Linked DNA regions of Homo sapiens. The protein of the gene in region 1 purifies or fractionates together with the protein of each later gene. This does not show direct contact. Each region holds a gene or a part of one and is shown on either strand. Other genes may lie near its edges. The genes, in order: PSCA and ITGA6.

Region 1 (11,803 bases):
GATCACAATAGTGATGTTACTTGCAGGAGTAATTGGGGGAGTTGCAAATCTTGTGGTCCCTGGAATAACGGCTGGGAGTCGTTTCAGTCTAACCTCAGCAGAGCTCAGATCCCCTCATCTTCCTAATGAATAACGGCTGGGAATCGTTTCAGTCTAACCTCAGCAGAGCGCAGATCACCCATCTTCCTAATGAATAACGGCTGGGAATCGTTTCAGTCTAACCTCAGCAGAGCTCAGATCCCCTCATCTTCCTAATGAATAACGGCTGGGAATCGTTTCAGTCTAACCTCAGCAGAGCTCAGATCCCCCATCTTCCTAATGAATAACGGCTGGGAATCGTTTCAGTCTAACCTCTGCAGAGCTCAGATCCCCCATCTTCCTAATGAATAACGGCTGGGAATCGTTTCAGTCTAACCTCAGCAGAGCTCAGATCCCCCATCTTCCTAATGAATAACGGCTGGGAATCGTTTCAGTCTAACCTCAGCAGAGCTCAGACTCCCCTCATCTTCCTAATGAATAACGGCTGGGAATCGTTTCAGTCTAACCTCAGCAGAGCTCAGATCCCCCATCTTCCTAATGAATAACGGCTGGGAATCATTTCAGTCTAACCTCAGCAGAGCGCAGATCCCCTCATCTTCCTCATGCAGTGGTGGCCTTTCGTTAGCTTTACAAAGATGGCTGAGTTTTGGAAAAGGGCTGTTATGCCCAGAAATGACTAAGGGCAGTTTGGAGATTAACTGGCTGTGGGTTAGATCAGATCTCCTTCACCATCACCATTTTCTCACTGTTAAAACTTTTACAAAGGCAGTTTCCAGTGTCTCCTGGGGGCTGGCTCTGAGGACTCCCTTCCCCCAGCCATGCCCCAAGTTCGCAGAGCAGAGCCCCCAGACTATGCCTGGGCCACTGCACCAGCCTGCTTCCCTACTGAGCGGAGCCTCCAGACCATGCCTGGGCCACTACAGCAGCCTGCTTCTGCACTGGCTTCCCCATCTCCACCCACAGTCAGAGTGGCATTTGACAGGGCCAGTCACTCCCCCTGCCCAAATAAGCCTGTGCACTCTGAATACAGCTCAGGTCCTCGCTGGGCCACAAGGCCACGCCGGAGCTAACCCCTCACTGTCCTCTCCGAAGCCCATGGGTCATCCCCCGTGCCTGCTATTCCCTCTGCCTGGAGGTGGGCTTGTATCCGGCAGTGTCCTTTGCTCAGGTGCCGGAGGCCTCAGGTTGGGGCAGTCCCAGCCAGCCCTCCTTCTGGAGGTCTCTGGATGACAGGCCTCTCATAGCAGGGGTGGCTGGGGGTGCTGGTGAGGCTGTGCCCAGCTGGAAGGGAAGGGTGTGCCTTGGGTCTCCTCCCCAGTCTGAGTTCACTCCAGGAAGGGGGAGTGGCAGGAGCAGAGGGTGCAGAGTGGTGGGGGTGGTTCTGAGGGTCATTGGAGGCCAAGGGGCCTGGCTGGTGGGGCAGGGGCTGGGGCAGTGCCCATCTCCACCTTAGTGCCCAGGCAGGAGGGGAGCTGGTTTGGGGCAGGGCCCTGATGACGCCTTTGTGAGAGCCAGGAAAAGGCACCTCCTCTGGGAACACAGGGCCCTGGGGGAGTTAGAGATGGGGAGGGCCTGTGGGCCCCAGCTGGGTGGGCTTGGGGAAGAACGCCTCTGAGGGGCTCCAAGCTGCACAGCCCTCAGGACTTGGTGGCCCCAACACACCCACATTTACACACATGCTTTTGCTTACACAACACACAACCGGTGCACACACCCACACTCACTTGCATTTACACACATGCCACACATTTGCACATTTGATCCACATGCACAGACAAGCATCCTCTCTCACACTCTCACACACACTATGTGGCACACTCCCATGCCCACATAGTTGGCACATACAAACCCTCACAGTCACATATCACACACACACAGCTTGCAAGTCATGGCCTTAATTTCCAGAACCCAAATGGGGGCTTGGCACTGAGTGCCCCCAGCCAACCCATGTGCATCAGTGGGTTTTCCTCCTGATCTGCAAGGGCGTTTTTCCAAAGCAAAGATGCTAAAAACTGACACCAGCGTGGCTTTGCAAGTGACATGCTATCTTTATTTTTTTAATTAATGCTGCATGAAATAAAAAAAATTACACACAGGGATGTGTGTTCCAGCATGGGACCGTGTGGGGCCCCAGAAGGTGGTGGTGGGACTCCCTGCAAGGTGAGTCAGCTCCCAGAAGCCCCAGGGCCTGGTCCGGCTGTCCTGGCCCCGGCCTCATGCCCTGCACTAGGTGGAAGACAGGATCTCCAGGGAACCCGGCTGCTTTGGGCCCATGGCAGTGGGGTGGGTGGGCAGAAGGCCAAGAGCAAACAGGAAAATCTGGAGTCCCTGGAGGCAACTGGCAGAGAAGAGGAAGGAGGCCAAGGGTGAGTCACACTGAAGCCACACTAACTGTTGTTATTGTACATGATTCTGTGGGTCAGGAATTTGAGCATGCTAGAGTCAGATGTTTCACAGTGGAGGACGCTTAGTCATGGGGCATACCAGGCACATGGTGGGACTAGAACCCAGGGCCGCTGGATGGGGGTTCCCAAGGCAGGGTCTCCTGGGACAGGAAGGCTGGTTCCATCCCTGGTGTGACTGCTTACCACCTCAGGGACGGGATCACTTGGTCTCCCAGGACTTGGGTGCTGCTGGTGGGGAGTGGAGATTGGCATGGAACTGGGGTCGGAACTGGGGCCTGATCCCCAAGATGCATGGGGCTCCCCCAGGTGCTCCTACCATTACTCAGGGAACCTTGGATCTCTTCTCAAAGACCAAGTCCATTCTGGCACTGGGGAGGGATCAGAAAGAGAGGAAGAGAAGGAAGAAAATACACTAGTGTGTGATCACCCAGGGGGTTCATTTTGACCCCTGGCAAGATACAGCCGATTTATCAAGACAGGGGAATCACAATAGAGAAAGAGTTTAATTCACACAGAGCCAGCTGACCGGGAGACTGGAGTTTTATTATCACTCACATCAGCCTCTCAGCCCCTGTCCACCGGATGAGGATCTGCAGGAAGCCATGCCCCTTGTGGCAGAACTTCCCAGAAAGGAGAACTGCCAGAAGATCCAGGCTCAGTTTAGGCTCAGGGGCTGCATTCAGTGTATGGCCAAAGTGTGAATGACAGGGGACAGGGATTCGCCTGTGACCAGGGTCAAAAATCAGAGGGTGACCACAGTCAGGGTTCATTCTGTGACCAGGATCAGGGCTCAGCCAGTGGCCAGGGCCAGGGCTCAGGGTGGGGCCGTAACCAGGGCTCGTTAGGTAACCAGGATTAGAGTTCAGACTGACCACAGTGAGGGCTCAGTTTTGGGGTGAGGTCAGAACCCAACCTGTGGTCAGGGGTGGGGCTCTAGGAATGTCACAGCCATGGTCTTCCGTATAGGAGCCATGACCACGGGGCCATCCTCAGACCAGCCACACCCTCAGTGCGGCGGATGCTGGGGCTGCGGATTCTGTGGTGGGGATCCTGTGTGTTGCCCCCTCCTTGGCCTGCACCCACTAGAGGCCAGCAGCACCCCTGAGCTGGAATAAGCAGAGATGCCTCCAGACATCACCAAACATTCCCTGGCGGTGCAGAGTCACCCACGTGAGAACCACTGCCTTACAGCAATCACTGTGTATCAAATCAGATCAACAAACACTTACACACCTATAAATATTTGAGGACGGAAAGTTCCAGGCTGGCACCTTGAACACAGAGACAGATAAGAAAACGTCTTGTGCGGGAGTGGCCAGAGTCCGGGCGAGCTGGGGCGGGGGGCGGAGGGAGGATGGGACAGGGGCTGTCAGCCACACACGGAAGCAGTTCATGACTGTATGAGGCCCCTTGTCCTGAGCTTACAGGACATGGGCTGGAGGGCGTGTCCAGAGGGAAAGTTCTGGGTGGGCAGAGTGGGCAAGCAAGGAGTCTGGGGGAGGCTGCAGTCACCCTGCATGGCCTCCAGTAAGTTCCTGTCCCTCTTGGGCTCAGGCTCCTCACTTGCCAGAGAAGAGACAATTTCCATGGAAAAGAGCCCAACCCAGTGGGTTCCAGGGAGGCAGGCAGGAGAGACCTCAGAAGGACAGGGGCTGACCTGGAGCCCCGGGGGAAGCCCAAAGGCAGATTCCTGGTGCCACTGAGTCCCAGGGAGGTCGGGTCTTGCATCGTCCCTGCCCCCATCAGTAGTGTCACCTTGATCCCAGACTCAAGGTGAGACAGTGGGAAGCTGATGTCCCCTGAACACCCCAGAAACATCTACCAGCCTTCCTGGACGGTGCAGGCCTTCCTGGACGGTGCAGACCTGCTGGGAGAGGGTCCGATTCCCCGAGACTTTTCCTGACTGCAACATCCTCACCACCCCCTAAAATGTGCCAGAGCCTTTTCAGGGGCAAAATCGAGGAGAGGAGGTAACAATGAAGGCCGGACAACCATCAGCGGGGACGAGAGAGCGTCAGGGGAGAAGGGGCCGGTCTCCCTCCAGACACACACTCGGCAGCAGGCAGGGCCACGGACCACAGTGGACCTACCAGCTTCCGGCAGGAACAACAGCATACCCAAGAGGGTTGCCAGGCAGAGTTATCTAACTCAGGGTCCATGTACAAAGGCAGGGGTCAGGTTGAAGGAGACAGCAGCGGCCACAAGTCCCCCTCAAAGCCAGCCAGCAGCAGGAAGCCACCAGCCCCTCGGGCTTGCAGGGATGAGGGGGAGAGCACAGTGACCAGAGGCTGGCCAGAACCCGGGGGACAGGAGAAGCCTGGCTGACGGGACCTGGGCCTTCTCTAGAGGGCCATAGCCACTGCCACCACCACCCAGCCACTGGCAGGAGAGCCTGGGCCTGCTCTAGAGGGCCATAGCCACTGCCACCACCACCCAGCCACTGGCAGCAGAGCTTGGGCCTGCTCTAGAGGGTCCTAGCCACTGCTACCACCACCCAGCTGGCTGGCAGGAGAGCCTGGGCCTGCTCTAGAGGACCATAGCTACTGCCACCAACACTCAGCCGGCTGGCAGGAGAGCCTAGGCCTGTACTAGAGGACCATAGCTACTGCCACCAACACTTAGCCAGCTGGCATGAGAGCCTGGGCCTGCTCTAGAGGGCCATAGCCGCTGCCACCACCCACCGCCCAGCTGACTGGCATGAGAGCTTGGGCCTGCTCTAGAGGGCCATAGCCACTGCCACCACCGCCCAGCGGGCTGGGCCTGCTCTAGAGGGCCATAGCCACTGCCACCACCTCCCAGCTGACTGGCAGGAGAGCTGGCCTGAACTTGCCTCTTCCACTCTCTCATCTCCTGCCTGTGGGAGCTGGACCAGCCTCCCAGGACATGGAGCAGGACGGAGAGGGGATCTGGGGCAAACAGAGGCCATACAGCCCTGGGCCTAGCCGCTGCCTCCTGCTACTGCAGAGGCTGCTAAAAGCTGCACTTCCCCGACTCGTTTGCAGCTAAAGTTCCAAGCTGAGGGGGTCACTCAAGGTCCTGAGGGTAAAGCACCTAGCCCAGGGCTCAGCCCACACTGAATGCCCCATAAATGAAGGCCCGTCCAACAGGGTCTCCTCCCCAGGGAGGCTGTCCCCTGTGTCAACAAGAGCCAAACTCTGTAAAATATTTGAAGACATTTATTCTGAGCCAAATATGAGGGACCATGGCCTGTGACACAGCCCCCAGGAGACCCTGAGAACATGTGCCCAAGGTGGTCAGTGCACAGCTTGATGGTACCCATTTTAGGGAGACATGAGACATCAATCAAATATATTGAAGATATACATTGGTTTAGTCCAGAAAGGTGGGCAGCTGGAACTGGGGGCTTCCAGGTTATAGGTGGATTTAAACATCTTCTGGTTGGCAATCGCTTGCAAGAGTTATCAATAGAAAGGAATGTCTGGGTTATACGGGGTTGTGGAGACCAAGGCTTTATCATCAGATGAAGCCTCCAGGTAGCAGGCTTCCGAGACAATAGATGGTAAATGTTTCTCATCAGACTGAAGGCCTGTGTTGATGTTAACGCTGGCTGTTCCAGAGTTCTGAAGGGAGGAGGGATAATGAGGCTATCCAACCCTTTGCTGTCATGGCCTGAACCAGTTTTTCAGGTTAACTTCGGAAAGCCCTTGCCAAGAGGAGGGTTCCACTCAGATGGCTGGGGGGCCTTAGAATGTTACTTTTGGTTTATACCGGAACAGCCCCTGCCCCTGTCCTTTGCAGCACCTGCTAATGATCTGTCAGTGACGCTGTGACCAAGGCTCATCACCCTGCGGGCCGTGGGCCCCAGAGGGCGGCACAGCTTCTATAGGAGCACAGGGCCCAGGGAGGTGCCCTCATCCTTGGCTGGAAGGCCGAGGCCTGGAGGAGTCTGGAGAAAGGGTCTCCCTTGTCTGGCCTTGCACTGTGAGGTGGGGGAGGTGGGAGAGGCATAATCTGGGTCTTGAGGACGTTTCAGCCCTCAGCCCGGGGTGGCTGAGATATGGCCCTGGGTAGGCTCTGTCCTCCAGAGGTGGAAAGAAGGACAAAGGGAGAGGGAGGTGCAGGTCGCTCAGGGAGGAGACTCGGACCTGCCCAGCCCCGGGGCCCTCACTGGCTCCAGGAAACCCGCTGGTGTTGACTGTGGGCAGTCCAGCCTCTCCCCATTTGAGGCCATATAAAGTCACCTGAGGCCCTCTCCACCACAGCCCACCAGTGACCACGAAGGCTGTGCTGCTTGCCCTGTTGATGGCAGGCTTGGCCCTGCAGCCAGGTGAGGCCTTGGCTGGCCCCCAGCAGGGAAGGGAGCAGGGGTGAGCCGGGGAGGCCAGAGGGATACCTGCAGGGCACACGGAGAGGAGGGGAAGGAAGGAGGAAGGGAGAGGAAGGGGGTGAGGCTCTTGCCCTAGCCTCCGCTCCTCCAGGGAAGCTCTTGGCACGACCAGGCAGCGACCTGTTCCCTGCCGTCCCCTGTGACCGGGGCTTGCAGGGGCAGCACGGAGTCACTCTCCTTCACCACCGTGGGGCAGGGCCTGGCTCCTAGGGGGCAGGTAGACAGACTGACGGATGGATGGGCAGAGATGCTGATGAGGAGCTGGGAGACATGGGACAGGAAGCCTCAGGCTAAGAAGTGGTTTTTGGGGCACAAGGGGGAGGTGCTGGGGGTGTCCTGCGAGGACCCGGGGGTCTACATCCGGCCCAGTCCCAGCACTGCAGCTTCCAAGGGTCCCAGGGAGCTGCTCTGCTTGAGGTGGGACCCTCCCGACCCAGGGTCCCGGGTTCAGTCACCCCCACAGCCGCAGCTTCCTCTTCTGAAACACACGGTCACAAAAGCAGCCACCGAGGGACTAAACAGGGCAACATTTCGGAGGCACTGAGCAGGGGGCCGTGAAGATGGGGAGGAGACATTGAGGGTGACAAGAGGGCGCCGAGGACTTCCTCAGGCCACCGCCATGGAGGCCCACCTGCCTGGGAGCCCCCATTCCTGGGGAGTGCTATGGGGCAGCCTCTGAGGCCCCTCCCACTCCACCCCACAGGCACTGCCCTGCTGTGCTACTCCTGCAAAGCCCAGGTGAGCAACGAGGACTGCCTGCAGGTGGAGAACTGCACCCAGCTGGGGGAGCAGTGCTGGACCGCGCGCATCCGTGAGTGGGGGGACGACAGCCGCCAGGCCTAGGTCTCTGCCACTGAACTATTAATCTTTCTGGCCATCTGTCCGCATCTGTGTGCTGTTTTCCTTCCACCTGTCCCCGACCCGTCCCGCACCTGCACCCCCAACAATCACCCAGCATCTGTCCCTCCAGCCATCCTCCTCCATCTGCCACTCCTCCACTCATCTGTCCCTCCCCATCCTCCATCTTCCACTCCTCCACCCATCTGTCCCTCCCCATCCCTGAGCTCACTTACTCACTCACCCCATTTCTGACGCTCAGCGGGTGGTCCATCTGCCTCGGACATCTGGATAGGGCTGAGACCAGGGCCGAGACCAGGCCCTCGCACTGCTTGCAATCCTGAGGCCAGCCCAGGGGGACTCTAGAGCATTAGGCAGGGTGGGACAGGAGGAGGCCTGGGGCAGGTCAGGCAGGTGAGCACACAGGGCAGCCCCATCCCCGGATCCCGCTGCTCCCCAGGCGCAGTTGGCCTCCTGACCGTCATCAGCAAAGGCTGCAGCTTGAACTGCGTGGATGACTCACAGGACTACTACGTGGGCAAGAAGAACATCACGTGCTGTGACACCGACTTGTGCAACGCCAGCGGGGCCCATGCCCTGCAGCCGGCTGCTGCCATCCTTGCGCTGCTCCCTGCACTCGGCCTGCTGCTCTGGGGACCCGGCCAGCTCTAGGCTCTGGGGGGCCCCGCTGCAGCCCACACTGGGTGTGGTGCCCCAGGCCTCTGTGCCACTCCTCACACACCCGGCCCAGTGGGAGCCTGTCCTGGTTCCTGAGGCACATCCTAACGCAAGTCTGACCATGTATGTCTGCGCCCCTGTCCCCCACCCTGACCCTCCCATGGCCCTCTCCAGGACTCCCACCCGGCAGATCGGCTCTATTGACACAGATCCGCCTGCAGATGGCCCCTCCAACCCTCTCTGCTGCTGTTTCCATGGCCCAGCATTCTCCACCCTTAACCCTGTGCTCAGGCACCTCTTCCCCCAGGAAGCCTTCCCTGCCCACCCCATCTATGACTTGAGCCAGGTCTGGTCCGTGGTGTCCCCCGCACCCAGCAGGGGACAGGCACTCAGGAGGGCCCGGTAAAGGCTGAGATGAAGTGGACTGAGTAGAACTGGAGGACAGGAGTCGACGTGAGTTCCTGGGAGTCTCCAGAGATGGGGCCTGGAGGCCTGGAGGAAGGGGCCAGGCCTCACATTCGTGGGGCTCCCTGAATGGCAGCCTCAGCACAGCGTAGGCCCTTAATAAACACCTGTTGGATAAGCCAGAGAGACCCTCTGTCCTTGCACACCCCAGGCGGGCACCGGATCCAGGGCTGTGTCTGGACCAGGGCCCTGGTCACATGGGCTGCAGCCTCCGCCCTAACAGGAGCAAAGCTTGGCCCCTGAAAGGAGGACGTCCCTGCAGAGGGTGGGAGGGCAGTTCCCAGGACTTGCACTTGCTGTGCTGCCTGGAGCATGTGGCCAGACCTCTCTGAGCCTTGCGACTCATCTATGACCCCTCCTTGCTGGGAGGATGGACCCAGAAAGTTCACAGGAAGGAGAGCGTTCCGGGGGGAGGGACTGCTACCATTCAAGCTCCTACCCATCCCCTTGGCCTGATTTGAGCACCCCCATTTTTCAAAATTTGTTTTAGAGCTGCACACCCACCATACAGCATTCAAACACTACAGCAGGGTCCCCGGTGACAGGTGGCCTCCCCCAACCCTGAACCCCAGCGCCTTCCCTCTCTGGGGTGCCCATTACACCTCCAGAGGCTTCTTTCTGGGAGAATCTGTGCCCCGTGAGCATCCCCAGGCCCCTGAGTGGGAGGACACCATCCACACTTGCCTTCTGCGCTCAGGGGAAGCCTTTTGCACACAGCCTGCTTCCCGCCCTAGGGCTAGGGGTGCAGCCTGTGACCTGGGTGGGGACCTGCTCAGGGTGAGGCCTCCAAGGGTGTTAGGGGTGGGGCTCGGGGGGCGGTTTCAGAGAAGAGGAGACAGAGGCTCAGGAAAGGGAACGGGTCTGTTGCCCACATCCCATACCGAGCCAGGATTGGAACCCTGGCCTGGAGCTCTGAGGGTGGGTCATGGAGCAGACAGTGGGCAGAGCTGTGCTGGAAAGAGCCAGGCCTCCCGTCTGACATGTGACTTCACGGGGAGACCTCCCTCCTGAACACTGGGGGCCCAGGGTGGCATTGTCAGCAGGGTGCAGCTCCCCAGGCCAGCATCTGAGTGACCCTGGGCACTGGTCACACCCTCCCCGCCTCGCCTACACCCAGCCCAGCCTGCCCGGCTTCCATGGTGAGCTCTGGGCTTCCATGGTGAGCTCTGCCCAACACCTACCCACCCTCCCAGGCCCAAGGCACACTCAGACCTGCCTTGGCCCAGGGCCTGAGTCCAGAGTTGAGGGCTAGGCCATTGTTTTCTGGGAGGGCCCTGCAGACCTGGGAGCCCGCACAGAACTCTCCACCCCTCAGGGCTCAGGTGCAGGAACTGGGGCCTGAGGCTCAGGCAGGTGCTTCTGGCCACACTGTGTCTCCTGAAGCTGCCGGCCCGGGCTTGCTGACCTGCTCTGGGGAGCATCAAGGACGCTGAGTGAGGGAGGCTGGTGCCCTGCCTGGCTCCATCCACTTAGCACACAGTTATCTAACCCTTGGTATGGTATGTTCCACTGCTGTTTCAGTTGCTCCTGGTCACCCTGGTGATAAAAACTGGGAGAAAAAAAGGAAAGCAAGGAAAAAGGATCCAGAATGCTGAGATGGCCAGGGAGGTGGTCTGGAGGCCTGCAGTGCAGAGGCAGGTGCCTCAGTGATAAGAGCGGCTGTCCTCACTGAACAGGACTCAGCCCACTCCAGTGCCCACACAGCAGCCCCTACCCCCTGGTGGAAGGGGGTCCTTCTCCCTGGGGCTTAGGTTCAGAGACACAAGGCAGCGTGCTCCAGGGCTAGGGCCCATCCACATCGGGCTGGGGGTGTCCAGAACAGAGCAAGACAGGACCCTCACACCCTGTTCCCCAGAATTCCTCGCATTGGAATACCTTGGACCAGGTGAGGAGAAGAAGGGCAAGGATGCGGGAGGCCTCTCTGGACTCTCGATGCCAGGGCCAGCCTGAAACCTGTGGCCCCCTTTGACCTCCTGAGCTGTCCCTCAGGTCACGGGGCCTCTGAGCTAAGGGCCTGTGAGGATGCCCCGCCCTGCCCCTCCCTCACACCATGAGGATGGGGCAGGAACCTGCTCTGGCCACGTGGCACATGGGGGACAGAGGTCCTCCCTGTCCTGCTGCCTCCTCAAAGGACAGACGGCTGACCTCTCCAAGGGCAAGGACCAGCCAGGGAGGGCCACCTGCACCAACAGTGCAGGTCGCAGCCCTGGTGCACTCAGGCTCCAGAGGTTGCCTATTCACTCAGGGCCCCACGGCTCCATCTGGACTAGAACCTGCACCTCCCTGTCTTCCCACTTCGCCTCATCTTTAGAAATGATAGAAAAACAAAAAAGAAAAAAGTGCAGAACTCAAATCCCTAAACCCTAGCATAATACCTGCCAGCATTTCATAGCCGTTGGGACGTTTCCTATTGTAATCTAGAAGACACAAAGTTTACCAAGAAGATAAACAAGCAAGGACTGACAATTAGTAATAACAAGATAGCTAACAAAAGGTCCTAGGAAGGGCAGAAGCAAGTGAGGCTCAGGAGGCTGCTTCCAATGGTTGACCAGATACAGTGGAGATCAGAGCCTTGGCTATATTTATGCAACCGGGCAGCTCAGGAGGCTGCTTCCAATGGTTGAGCAGATACAGTGGAGATCAGAGCCTTGGCTATATTTATGCAACCGGGCAGCTCAGGAGGCTGCTTCCAATGGTTGACCAGATACAGTGGAGATCAGAGCCTTGGCTATATTTATGCAACCGGGCAGCTCAGGAGGCTGCTTCCAATGGTTGAGCAGATACAGTGGAGATCAGAGCCTTGGCTATATTTATGCAACCGGGCAGCTCAGGAGGCTGCTTCCAATGGTTGACCAGATACAGTGGAGATCAGAGCCTTGGCTATATTTATGCAACCGGGCAGCTCAGGAGGCTGCTTCCAATGGTTGACCAGATACAGTGGAGATCAGAGCCTTGGCTATATTTATGCAACCGGGCAGCTTGCTCATACATTTTACGCGCATTTTCTTCTATTTGACCTGAGGTGTTTACA
Region 2 (11,861 bases), on another chromosome or scaffold:
TGACTTCAGGATTTGAGTATGCATGGATTTTGGTTATGTGCAGGGGTCCTGGAACCAATCCCTTGTGTATACTGAGGGACGACTATATTTGCCAAGCTATAACGATAAGGAATGGTTTATGCTGACCATTTAAATGACGCAAATATGGGGCACAAGTGACCTCATTTGCATATTGCCTCTCCCTATGTTTAATCTCCATTATTTGAAGTCCTCTCTTGTTTTATTTTCTAGTATACTTTCTTCACCTACATTTTCACAGCTACTATTTTATTTCAGCGTGCATTTAATAGTAGATATTGTACTATATGCTTCACTTATATAATCTCACTTAATCCTTATAACAACCTGATGAGGTAAGAATTCTGGCTATTTTACAGATTAGAAAATTGAGTCCTAGGCCAGGGGAGGTGGCTCATGCCTGTAATCCCAGCACTTTGGGAGGCCAAGGCGGGCAGATCACGAGGTCGGGATTTCGAGACCAGCCTGACAAACATGGTGAAACCCCGTCTCTACTAAAAATACAAAAATTAGCTGGGCATGGTGGCATGTGCCTGTAATCCCAGCTGCTTAGGAGGCTGAGGCAGGAGAATCGCTTGAACCCGGGAGGCAGAGGTTGCAGTGAGCTGAGATTGCACCACTGCACTCCAGCCTGGGCGACAGAGCGAGATTCACTCTAAAAAAAACAAATTGAGTCCTAAAGAAGTTGGGTAACTTGCTCCAGGCCCTCAGCCGGGAAGAAGGTGAGGCTAAGCTGCCTTCCATGAGTGTTTGCCTTAATCTCACCTGATACACTCCACAGATCACTGGCTTAAGTCCTAACTCAAAATCAGCCTTTCCCCCCACCCCACCAACACAGGAGATATTTTTATAGAAAGCAATGAATTTTTTTCTTTAAAGAACTTAATTTTAAAATGTCTACCCCATGTTTGGTCTTTCAAGAGTGCATTGCGTGTGGCATGAGATGTACATAGCTTCATGTTTGTTTCTAATGAAGGTGGGGATGGAAAACCAAATTTGTCAGGTGGGGATTTCACCCCAGCCTTATGACTCAGTTTTAGATTTAACTTGATTCATTTAAGGTTGGAGTTTATTTCTGGCTGGCAAAATATGGCTTCCTGGCTTAGAAAAATTCCCTCAAAACAAACTTGAAAAAAGTTTGCCCACCTAAAATGGCAACGTGAAACACTCTACATTTTAATGAGCTCATTGTAAGTGAATTAGAAACATTCAAATGCAATTTACTTCAAAATAGATCTAGGTGTTAAAATAAGGAACAGCTGGCAGTATGGAGTCTCCTGATCCCAACCAAAGGCAGGTTTGCCCCTATTAAATGGTCTGTGACTTAGAGCGAATAAAATGTCACTTTTTTTTTTAAACACAAAAGCATTAAGTTTCAGTGTCGAAGAGAAAACTCTGAACACTAATATAAAAAGACAAATAAAAAAACAGTATGGGAAAACTCTGTTTCTTTCTCTGGAACAAAAAATCTGCCATTGAATAGTAGAATCCCTAGTCAGAACAGTTTATTAAGTTTAGTTCACGAAACTATATTGTGGTCAATGCATAGCTCATAAAAGCCGTATCTTGAAAGACTGTACACAGGTGGGAGCTCTGGTTTTGATGCAACATTCTAAGTGCTTTAGATAACATCAACTCTACTAATTCTTAAGAGAAAGCAACTACTGAGGGGTAGATGACATGTTGTTATTTCCGGTTTACAGCTGGGAAAACGGAGACATGGAGAGATTAAATGGCCTTGTGGCTAGCGTGGAGCAGAGGCAGGATCCGTAATAAGGAACTTGGGTTCCAGAGACCATGTGCTACCCACTCTCATGGATGGCCTCACATTAAAGGGCTCCAGGAAATATGTAAAACTGTTGGGATAATGTAACCACAGAAAGAGAATAAAGAGATGTTTTCATTAACTAGTTTCTTGAGACGGAGTCTTGCTCTGTTGCCCAGGCTGGAGTGCAGTGGTGCAATCTCGGCTCAATGCAACCTCTGCCTCCCGGGTTCAAGCGATTCTCCTGCCTCAGCATCCTGAGTAGCTGAAATTACGGCACCTCCACCACGCCCGGCTCATTTTTGTATTTTTAGTAGAGATGGGGTTTCGCCAAGTTGGCCAGGCTGGTCTCGAACTCCTGACTTCAGGTGATCTGCCTGCCTCAGCCTCCAGAAGTGCTGGGATTACAGGCATGAGCCACCACGTCCGGCCTAATAACTAGTTTTTATGTTGCATGAAAAAAGCAAATATATTCTCTGCTGTTAGTGATGATGAAGTCAATATAACAGTGAACATGATAACAAAATGATTAAAGTAGGTCTCAGGGAATGGAAAATATATTAGGTATGACATGGATTCTTCAGACTTCTCCATAAATGACCAATATTCTAAAATTATCTTGAAAGCTCTTCTACAGAGGGTGGGATATAGTACAAATAAATAATTTTATTTTGAAAAGTGTACTGGTAAAACATAAGAATTCAAAAGCTCTCACCTGAGCAAATGCCTCTATGCATAGCTTTCACTGCCTTTTAATTAAAAATGTTCAGTTTATAGAAGTTTCTTCTGTGATGTGTTATTTCGTTTTCTAATCGGCCCTTTTTTTTTTTTTTTAGACACGGTTCTGCCAGTTAACTGGATTTGTAGGGCCCTTCTTGCACTGTGCATGTCTTGTTTTCATAGGCATGTGTGCTAGCACACACACACACATGCCCCATGCCCTATATACTCAGCACACCTTTATCACCAAGCTATCTCTCTCCCTTTGGTTCCAGACAAGTATCTTCCTGTCCCAGATTTTGTTTTCCCCATTAAAACTGTGTACTCCCTCCCCAGGTCTTTAATTTTTAGGGCTCTGAATTCTTTTATTCCTTTGGCCCCAGAGATTGATGTGTCCTCAGTGGATCCAGAATGACCTCTAAACCTCCTTTTTGTAAGACACTTTTGTAAAACACCCAACTCTGTTTTACAATGGAAATAACAACTGAGTCACAAAACTTGATTCTTTTTTTTTTTTGAGTCAGAGTCTTGCTCTGTCACCTAGTCTGGAGTGCAGTGGTGCAATCTTGGCTTACTGCAACCTCTGTCTCCCCATTTCAAGTGAGTCTTGAGCCTTGGCCTCCCGAGTAGCTGGGATTAGAGGTGCCCATCATTAGACCCAGCTAATTTTTGTATTTTTAGTAGAGACGGGGTGGTGGGGTTGGGTGGGGGGGAGTCTCACCATTTTGGCCAGGCTGGTCTCGAACCCTTGACCTCAGGTGATCCTCCCACCTCGCCTCCCAAAGTGCCAGGATTATAGGCGTGAGCCACTGTGCCTGGCCAAAACTTGATGGTTATAGTCAGAAGGAGCTGACAATCTTCAAATAAATTATGTCAAGAGTGAGGGTTTGACTCAACTTCAAGTATCTTCGGCATCTATGTTGAGAGTGAGAGTTTGACTCAACTTCAAGTAGGTAGGAGACAGGTGGCAGGTAGGAGCACTGAGCTAATAAGTTTTCCATTTGCGATGGGCACTTGACATATTCCAGAACAAGACTCCCAGCCTTGTTTTTCTTTATCTGAACCTCTTCCCACACAAGCATAATTTGCTTCAGTAGTGCTATACATGTAGTTGTGATATTTAAATTTAATATTATTTAGAATTTCAATTTGAGCACAATCTGTGTTTGGGATAAAGTAAATAACTCTGGCCATTCATACATCATCCACTAAACACATCTTGGGAAGACAGGAATCAATGGTCCACAGAATTACTCTTAGAAGCAAGGGGTGATATTCAGAATAGTTAACAGCTGGTGTGACATGGGGATATCCAAGCAGAGGGAGCCCTTGCTGCATCAGGGCTTAAGGGCTTAAACTTTCATTTGCCAGGTTGTGAGGAAGTTGCTTAGTCCTAGGAAAATGGGCAGGGCAGGGATGGTTGCCTGTGAGGAACTAAGGGCAGCAGCTTTTATCAACCAATTCAGAATATTTCAGTAACCATTACAGCCAAATCACCAGCTCCTGGCTGAGTACACTCTGCAGTGAGGTTCATTATACTATGCCTATAATAGTCTGGACCCCATCTCTCTGGAATAGTACATATTTTACACGAAGGGAAAAGGCTAACTTGCAACTTATTTGCATGAAAAATCACGTTGCAAGTACTTCTTAGTTTACTAGATTGTCTCCAATAGTTTCTCAACCTTATCAAGATATATTTGTTAAAACTGTGTGCTCTCCAAAATCATCTACTGAATTTAAACCACTGCACCCCACTTTGGACTATAATTGACTGGAGTTACTGATTGGAAAGGAAGTGGTACACACCCCTAATATACTGACGGACTTACTCTGACAGCTGCTACCACCTGTGGGGACCCTTGATGATGTTCACGCAGCTTTTCTGAGTGGCACATGCTGTTCTCTTGAATACTCCTTGAGGTGAAGAAGAGGCCACCCCTACCCCTATGCACACACAGCTCCTGCTCTTTCCTGGGGCTGCACCCTGCTTGTATTTCCAATGCAGGGATGTCAGATTCCAAAGAGGGCTCCCCAAGGCATTCCAGAAGGCTTCAGGCCAGCACGTCCCAACCTTTTCATGCCATGGGACCCCTTTGGCAGGCTGCTGAAAACCATGGGGTTCTTCTCAGAATAAGGGTTTTAAATACATAAAAGAAACCACAAGAGGTTACAAAAAAAGCCAATAATATTGAAATGTAGCTAACAAAATGTTTTTAAAAATTTGTGCTAGAGCAATATATATGCTTCATTATTGACATATAATATCTGGCTGATTGTCTAATAACTACTGTTATTTGAGATACTTGCAACAACTGTGATGTGATGTAAAAACCTATGGTTTCTAGTGATTACTAAGTCATAAATACTTATCCTACTGCTACTGTAGTTTGTTGTCTACGTTCATAATGGCAAAACGTGCTAAATGTCAGAGGTTGGTGAAAATTAAGACGTAAATTTTTTCTCATCCAAGTTCACAGTACTCTTGAATTAATTACCTCTCCTCGGGTTAAGAACCCCTGCAGGATAAGGTTGCCCCTAGGGCCAACACCTCACTGGAGCCCCGCCTCATGTCCTGGAGGCAGGAGCCTTCATGCCACCTACACAGAACTCGGAGCTGTCTCTTGGCCCAGCAGTTCTCCCCACAACTAGTTCTGAAAGTCCGGGGCTAGGAAAGAACGGCATCGTCGCCTGAGCTCCTGGCGCCACTTTAAACAACCCATCCTTGACTTGCGTGACTTCTTCCACAAGCTCTCCTGGTCACCTGGGCAAAATCCTAGGTGATCTGGGGACAAGGCGGAACTTCGGTTTTCTGATCTGCAAAAAGAAACACCTACCTCATAGGACTGTTAGGATGAATTGAGGTAATGGCTGGGTTGTGTACATTATACAGCACTATCAAGGTGTGCGCTGTGATCATTTTTGAGGGTTGTTAGGTGTTTGAGGACCCAGAACAGTCTACACAGCTGTAGTCCCCAAGTGTTGGGCACGCCTTAAGCGCTCCATAAACACCTGTAGAAATGAATGAATGACGTATGCATCTGCACGTGGGCCCACATCTGCAAGAACAGGCTGCTCAGGCCATGAGGCCCGGTGCATCACCTGCACTTCTCTTTATAACGGGTAGTAAAGTCTCCCTCGCTCTGTGCTACTCGGCAACCACAATTCTGTCCACAGAGGGCGGCGCAGTGGGGCTGCTTCGCCGCGAGCTCGCCTCCGGGGCTCCCACGTCGTGGCTTCCGGGCAGGTACCGGGCAGCTGGAGACGCCAGAGCCGGCGGGTAAGGTGCGGGCGGTGCGCCGGGCCGCGGGCGCGCAAGGAGGGGCGAGAGGGTGGGGAGGGGCGGGGCCGGCGTCCTCGTCACTTGATAAAACGCCTGCGAGTCTCCAGAGAACAACGGGCTCATTCAGCGGTCGCGAGCTGCCCGCGAGGGGGAGCGGCCGGACGGAGAGCGCGACCCGTCCCGGGGGTGGGGCCGGGCGCAGCGGCGAGAGGAGGCGAAGGTGGCTGCGGTAGCAGCAGCGCGGCAGCCTCGGACCCAGCCCGGAGCGCAGGGCGGCCGCTGCAGGTCCCCGCTCCCCTCCCCGTGCGTCCGCCCATGGCCGCCGCCGGGCAGCTGTGCTTGCTCTACCTGTCGGCGGGGCTCCTGTCCCGGCTCGGCGCAGCCTTCAACTTGGACACTCGGGAGGACAACGTGATCCGGAAATATGGAGACCCCGGGAGCCTCTTCGGCTTCTCGCTGGCCATGCACTGGCAACTGCAGCCCGAGGACAAGCGGCTGTGAGTTCCCAGACCCTTCCCACCCCCACTGGGGCGCCGGCCTGCGCGCGAGTTGAGGCGAGGGCGCGCCCTGTTCCCGCCGGCCCCGGGGAGTAGTTGGCCCGTGGGTCGCGCCCGGGCCGGCCGAGGCGCACCCAGCGCCCAGCGCGCTCGGCTCCCCGCCCTGACCCGCCCCGCGCGGCGCCTCCCTCCATTCAGCTCGGGAAGGAGGAGAACCCGAGGGCTAGGCTGGGCCCCGGGAGAGTTTACTTTTTTTTCTGTTTTAAACAAAGTGCTTTCCGCCGGTTCTTCCCTCCGGGCGTGTTTGCTGGGACCCCGGCAGGTGGCACGCTTTGCTGAGCTTCACGTGTGTGTTTGGGGCTGGGGTGGCGTTCAGGGTCACCGCAGCGCTGCTGTGGGTTTGCAGGGAGCGTAGTTCCAGGATGGTCTAGGCCTTTCCCAAACTCACGGTGCACCCCGTCTCCCCCGCAGACTGGCGCGCCCCGCACAAGTTGGAAAGCCACTTTCCATGTGTCCTGCATGACTTTCTCAGCAAGGCGGGGGCGCTCCTTAGGAGATACTTTTACATGCCTTTGAAAAAAAAAAAAAAAAAGATGGGGGTGGGGGCGGGAATTAACCAAACACCTGTTCGCTGGACTAGATCAGCTGAGAAAACAAGTCTGAGTGATGTGCCCAGCCCCCAAAGTACTCGGCCGCACCCGAGACCCGCTCGGCTCCTGCGTTGGGCGGGCACAGCCAAGGGGTTAAAGCAAAATGTCCGATCTGAGCCTGGACTTTGCAAACAAGGTTTGTAAGGGACAACCCCCCACCGTAGCGGTAAACCTCCCAGGAGAAAGAGGAGACCGGCACTACTGGCCTCTCCTTTTATTTCTTAAACAGTGTTTGGTTCCCACATGATCGGCTATTTAAGCCGGAGAGGGTATTTTGGCGCTTAGTCGCCTTAATCGCTATGGGGTTGCATTCTTCATCTGTGCTACTGAAAAATAGGCTGTAGCAACAAAAGGTCTCCCCTCCCCACCCAGGCCTTGAGTTGAACTAAGGACCTTCCAGGACCAACAGACCGGAGAAAGCAAAGTGCAGCCACAGTGAAGAGATTTTGTGTTTAGGAGAGGCGAATGGGATTTTAGAACTGGAGGAAACCTCTTGATTTCAGCGGTTAACAACTTTGGAATTCGTGAATGTTGCAGCCCCTGAATTTTAGTCAGTTTTTTTTTTTTTCTGATAACACCTGCTAGGTGAAGCACAGAAATTAGCTGGGGGTGGGGAGGCTCTAGGAGGGTGGTCTGAGGCTATATGCCTGGCCAGCTGCTTATACTCTGCTTTCTCTCAGAAATAATTGTTGTTAAGCTGTAAATCTGAAATGAAAGGTTCCTGTTAACTCAGTTAATAGATGACGTTTATTGTCTCGGAATACTTGGTGTGTAGAATTTGAGCTTGTTAGTGCAGAAATGATTGTGGGCCAGCAGAGGGAATTCATTCTCCTGGGCATTCTCTCTCTGCACCAGAGCCCCACTGAAACCGGTGGCTTCCTTGAAATACTTGTTCAAGCAAAAAGTGTGAAGGGAAAGTACTGGGACAAGAAATATCCTGGCAGTGGAGATTTGCGAAACGTGACTTTGCCAGGAATCTGTGTCGTGAAGGTTAGCAGCATGCTTGCTAAAACTTGTTACTGCTGCTGGGCTTCTCTGGTATTAGAGCTGAGGCAACTCCTCCCGAGGTAAGGATAAGCCTGCAATGGGGTCTGATGCCTTCTAGGAAAGCTCTTCTTAGCAGCTGACAGAGGGGAGAGGCCCCGTATAAGGAGACTGTATGTTTCCTAGAGTCCAAAGGCAGTGACCACACTTTAAAGAGGCTGTGGTTTATGTCACGTGCTGCCCACCTCCATGCTTTTGTAAAGCTTTATTCCAGCTTCAGGAATAGCATTGGTCTTCCCAGGAGAACCAGCACACACAGGCCATAGCACAGGTCAGTTGTCAACCTTTGACAGTAAAGAATGTGGGTGTAAATGGCAGAGCCAGTAAGACTGAGAAAACTTCTGGACCAGCTTCCTAAACTCTATGGAAAAACTCAGTGGGGGTCTTTCAGGGACCTGGTGGGAGAGAGACCTAAGCTGAGATTCCTTCTCGGCCTTTTATTAGCAGCTGTTAATTTACTTTGAGCTTTAATTTCTTTATCTGTAAAATGGAGATATTACTGCTTACTGGGGTTATTATGAGGATTAAGAGATAATATGCAAAGTGCTTAATGCCTGTCTGGCATGGGTACTTGCTGACTAAATGGTAGCTGTTAATGATCATTTAAAAAGCAGTAATTGTGTACCTACTGTGTGTCAGGTACCTTACAAGGTGTCTTAAACATTCTGTGATTCTAAGATTGCCTGAGAGTAAAGCCAAAGGTGGTTGTTTTTGGGTAATGATATTTTAAACTCAGTCATATTTATGAAACCCATGTTCAAAGCAACTTAACTTTAATAGGTCTTAATTAGACTTATAACAAAAGTGAGTTTAATGAACAGAGGACTTTGAGGAAGGAGAAGTAAAATATCAGATGCATGGGACGGTCAGATAAAAGCACGATCATAGAAGACCTATCATAAATGTTTGTAGTTCAAATTTTCTATAGTGCCTTTAACTATTCAGTCACATTTTAAACTCCAGTTATGACTTTTGCAGAATAATATTGTGTCAGAGAGCCCCAAAACATGTCGGGTGTTCCTAAAGCTTTGGAGACTATAAAATTGAAGTAGATACCATAAACTTCATCCAGGTTTTCAGGCTGTATATTAAAGAAGTTTCGGACTCCAAAAGATTACTCAATGGTCAGCCAAGTTGGTCCGCCGAGTGACTGAGGTCAGGGTCTGAGCACCTTGGACTCTTTAATTTCTCTTAGGTAGTTAAGATTGAGTCATTCCCAGAGGTGGAAGGTATGTGATGATGACTGTGGGTATATCCAGCCTATGAATCATCACTCTTAGCTCTTCTGGGAAGAGATGGATCTATATATGATCACAGGGAAGAACCTAGAAGAAGGAGATCTATAAGAGATAGTCTCATGAAGTCATTTTGGATTTCTGCCAACCCTCATTTTCTTCTTTATGGGGTCTCTCTCTCTGACCACCACTGTCTTCCAGAAATGCTCCAGGCCCGCGGTCTGTTCTGTTCTGACCCTTACTAGGTTTGTTCTTGACTTTTCTCAGACTTGTCATGTTCCATCTCTTAAAATCATATTTTCTGAACTAGAGATCATCTAGTCCAACTGCCTCTTTTTACAGATGAAGAAACTGAAGCTGAAAGTTCAGCTTGAGCAGAATCTTAACAGAATGTGGATTTGAATCTCTGACCCATGCTCATGCCATTTTTAAATGGAAAAGCCAGAAATGTTCTTCAGACCTAGAGAAATCGGCAAGCATCTGAATTTTGGAAGTGTACTATATTGTGTTGATTTATCAAACTGCTTCCCATATGCATAGGTCAGGGCTATCTATTTAAATATTGGTGCCTGGACTCTTACTATTGACTCTATTCCAGCTGGCCTTGGAACAAGTTCTGGGTCCGTCCTTCTTTGCCTGCCTCCACCCCATTCCCTTCTGAAAAAGCCCAGTGAAGTGTGGCTGTAGCTAGCCAAGAATCAGAGCTGTATTCAGGATGTGTACCTAAGCACTTGCTTCCTTGCATTTATTCACTCGGAGTGCCATGTGGCCCAGGGCCATCTTCCAGGGATTGCTGGGTCACCTTGAATGCTAAGAGTAGAGAAAAAGCCAAAACGGGCAGCGAGACTTACAGGAAGTCTTAGGACTCTGCAAGAAAGCAGAAATAGGCAAGTTTAATTTTAACACAGGCTGGTGTGAGACCAAGTAATGACAGGGTTGGGGAAAAAAAGGGTCAAAGTATTTATATGGTATAAATAATTTGTTGGGGAAGTCAGGATAAATGCTTATATAAAAGGATTCCTTTATTATAAAGAAGTGGTTATTCTGTGTTCTCAGTTATATAGACTCTCTTAGCATAACAATATATTGAGATTTAATTTAAGCTTTCATAACCAAATAGTACCAGAATTATGGCGCATGGTTTCCTGAAGACCTCGGCTCAACATATTACTGTGGACAGTGAGGCCAGTGAATTATTTGGTATTTTCAAGAGGGACAGTGAGACAAAACAGAAAATACTGTTGTAAGCTTAGATGACAGGGTCAATTGTGCCTGAAACACTGATTTAGTGCTGAATCAGCCCATTTTAAGAATATAATCATAGCTTAAGAACCAGTTTAAAATTTCCCCATCCTACACTAAAGCAATGTCTTTAACTCCTTTGGATGTCTGTAGCACATTGTGTCTGACAATTCTGATGTTTTGTGCTAAACTGTGATCCACTATCTTTAGGACATGATCTAATCTCTCCCAACTGGATTGTAGGTTATGTGAGGGCAGGGGTCTTACATTCATTTCTTTGCCTGCTAGCACCTAGCATATGCCTTGCAAATACAATAGAGACTGATATTATACACTCAGTTTAACCTGTGACATCAACTCTTCCTGCTGAGGGTGGAGAGAGGGAGAAATCCCTTTCTTTAACCCTTTGCCCTTCCTTGCTCAGGCCTTGGTGTCTTCTGCCTCTGAGGAAACGGAATCTGTAAGCTTAGCAAAGAAACGCACAAGACGTTAATTCTTGGTTTTTGATTTTTCAAAGGCGGGGGGTTCCAGCTAAGGGATTTTCATGAGTGTTTGTAAATTTCACCTGGCTTTTGCCCTAAAGGCAGACTTTAGAACCTAACCCCAGAAATACAGGCTGACCTACACTGCAGTGGGTACTCGGGACTTGCTGAGGTGGTTGGTTGTTATGAGGCTGGACAGAGAAGGATGACTGTGGAATAGAGATCTTTCTGAAAGCAACTTGACAGGGGTGTGGGGGTCAAATGGAAGTGTGCAGTACACGTGTGAAGTCACTTGTGAATTGATAGCGGCAGGTTTATTTCTTCAAGGATAGTAAGGGAATCTTGGATATATTTAACTCTTTCGGTAGGATGGTGGGAAGGCTGCTTACCTGCTCCGGGGGTGAGCCTAGGAGCCATAGCATGGGATCTGGGGATCTGTGTAGCACCCCCGCTGGCTCCTGGGAGGATGGTAAAGATTACGTACTGCAGCAGTGGGAAGTGGACGTAGTCTCAGCCCCCGGTGCCCATCTTCCCTTTCTGGGCTTGGGTACAACTCTGGAATCAAATAACTTTATATCTGGAAGGAAGCTTAGGGGTTCTGAAACCTGGCTGGTCTTCAGGGTAACTACTTGGGCAACCTTTTATAAAAGTGTGATTCTCAGCCCAGCCTAGATCTGTTACGTCAGTTTCCATAAGTGTGCTCCAAGAAGCTGTTCTTAAAGTCTTCTTCGTTTGAGTCAGACTAGCTTTTCTCCTTTACACAGAAGGCAGAGTGTAATGTAGTGACTAAGAGCAGAGCCTAGAGCCAGGTAGGATCAAACCCTTTTCTGCCATTGACTAGCTATGATTTTGTGCAGGATTCCTAACCTTCCTAGGCCTTCCTGCCTTCAGCTGTGAAGCTAGTATCCTCGCACATTAGAATAGT

What was found.
Region 2: the proteins of PSCA (region 1) and ITGA6 purify together in Homo sapiens (co-immunoprecipitation; 2 studies listed by BioGRID and IntAct, with this or other methods). This does not show direct contact.

The regions. Positions count from the first base shown.
Region 1 is NC_000008.11:142,673,832-142,685,634, forward strand, and holds PSCA (prostate stem cell antigen preproprotein), read left to right. Parts: upstream 1-6,663; 5' UTR 6,664-6,707; coding exon 6,708-6,732; intron 6,733-7,495; coding exon 7,496-7,603; intron 7,604-8,089; coding exon 8,090-8,301; 3' UTR 8,302-8,894; downstream 8,895-11,803. UniProt on the Homo sapiens protein: May be involved in the regulation of cell proliferation. Has a cell-proliferation inhibition activity in vitro. May act as a modulator of nicotinic acetylcholine receptors (nAChRs) activity.
Region 2 is NC_000002.12:172,421,688-172,433,548, forward strand, and holds the start of ITGA6 (integrin alpha-6 isoform b preproprotein), read left to right. Parts: upstream 1-5,898; 5' UTR 5,899-6,101; coding exon 6,102-6,283; intron 6,284-11,861. UniProt on the Homo sapiens protein: Integrin alpha-6/beta-1 (ITGA6:ITGB1) is a receptor for laminin on platelets. Integrin alpha-6/beta-1 (ITGA6:ITGB1) is present in oocytes and is involved in sperm-egg fusion.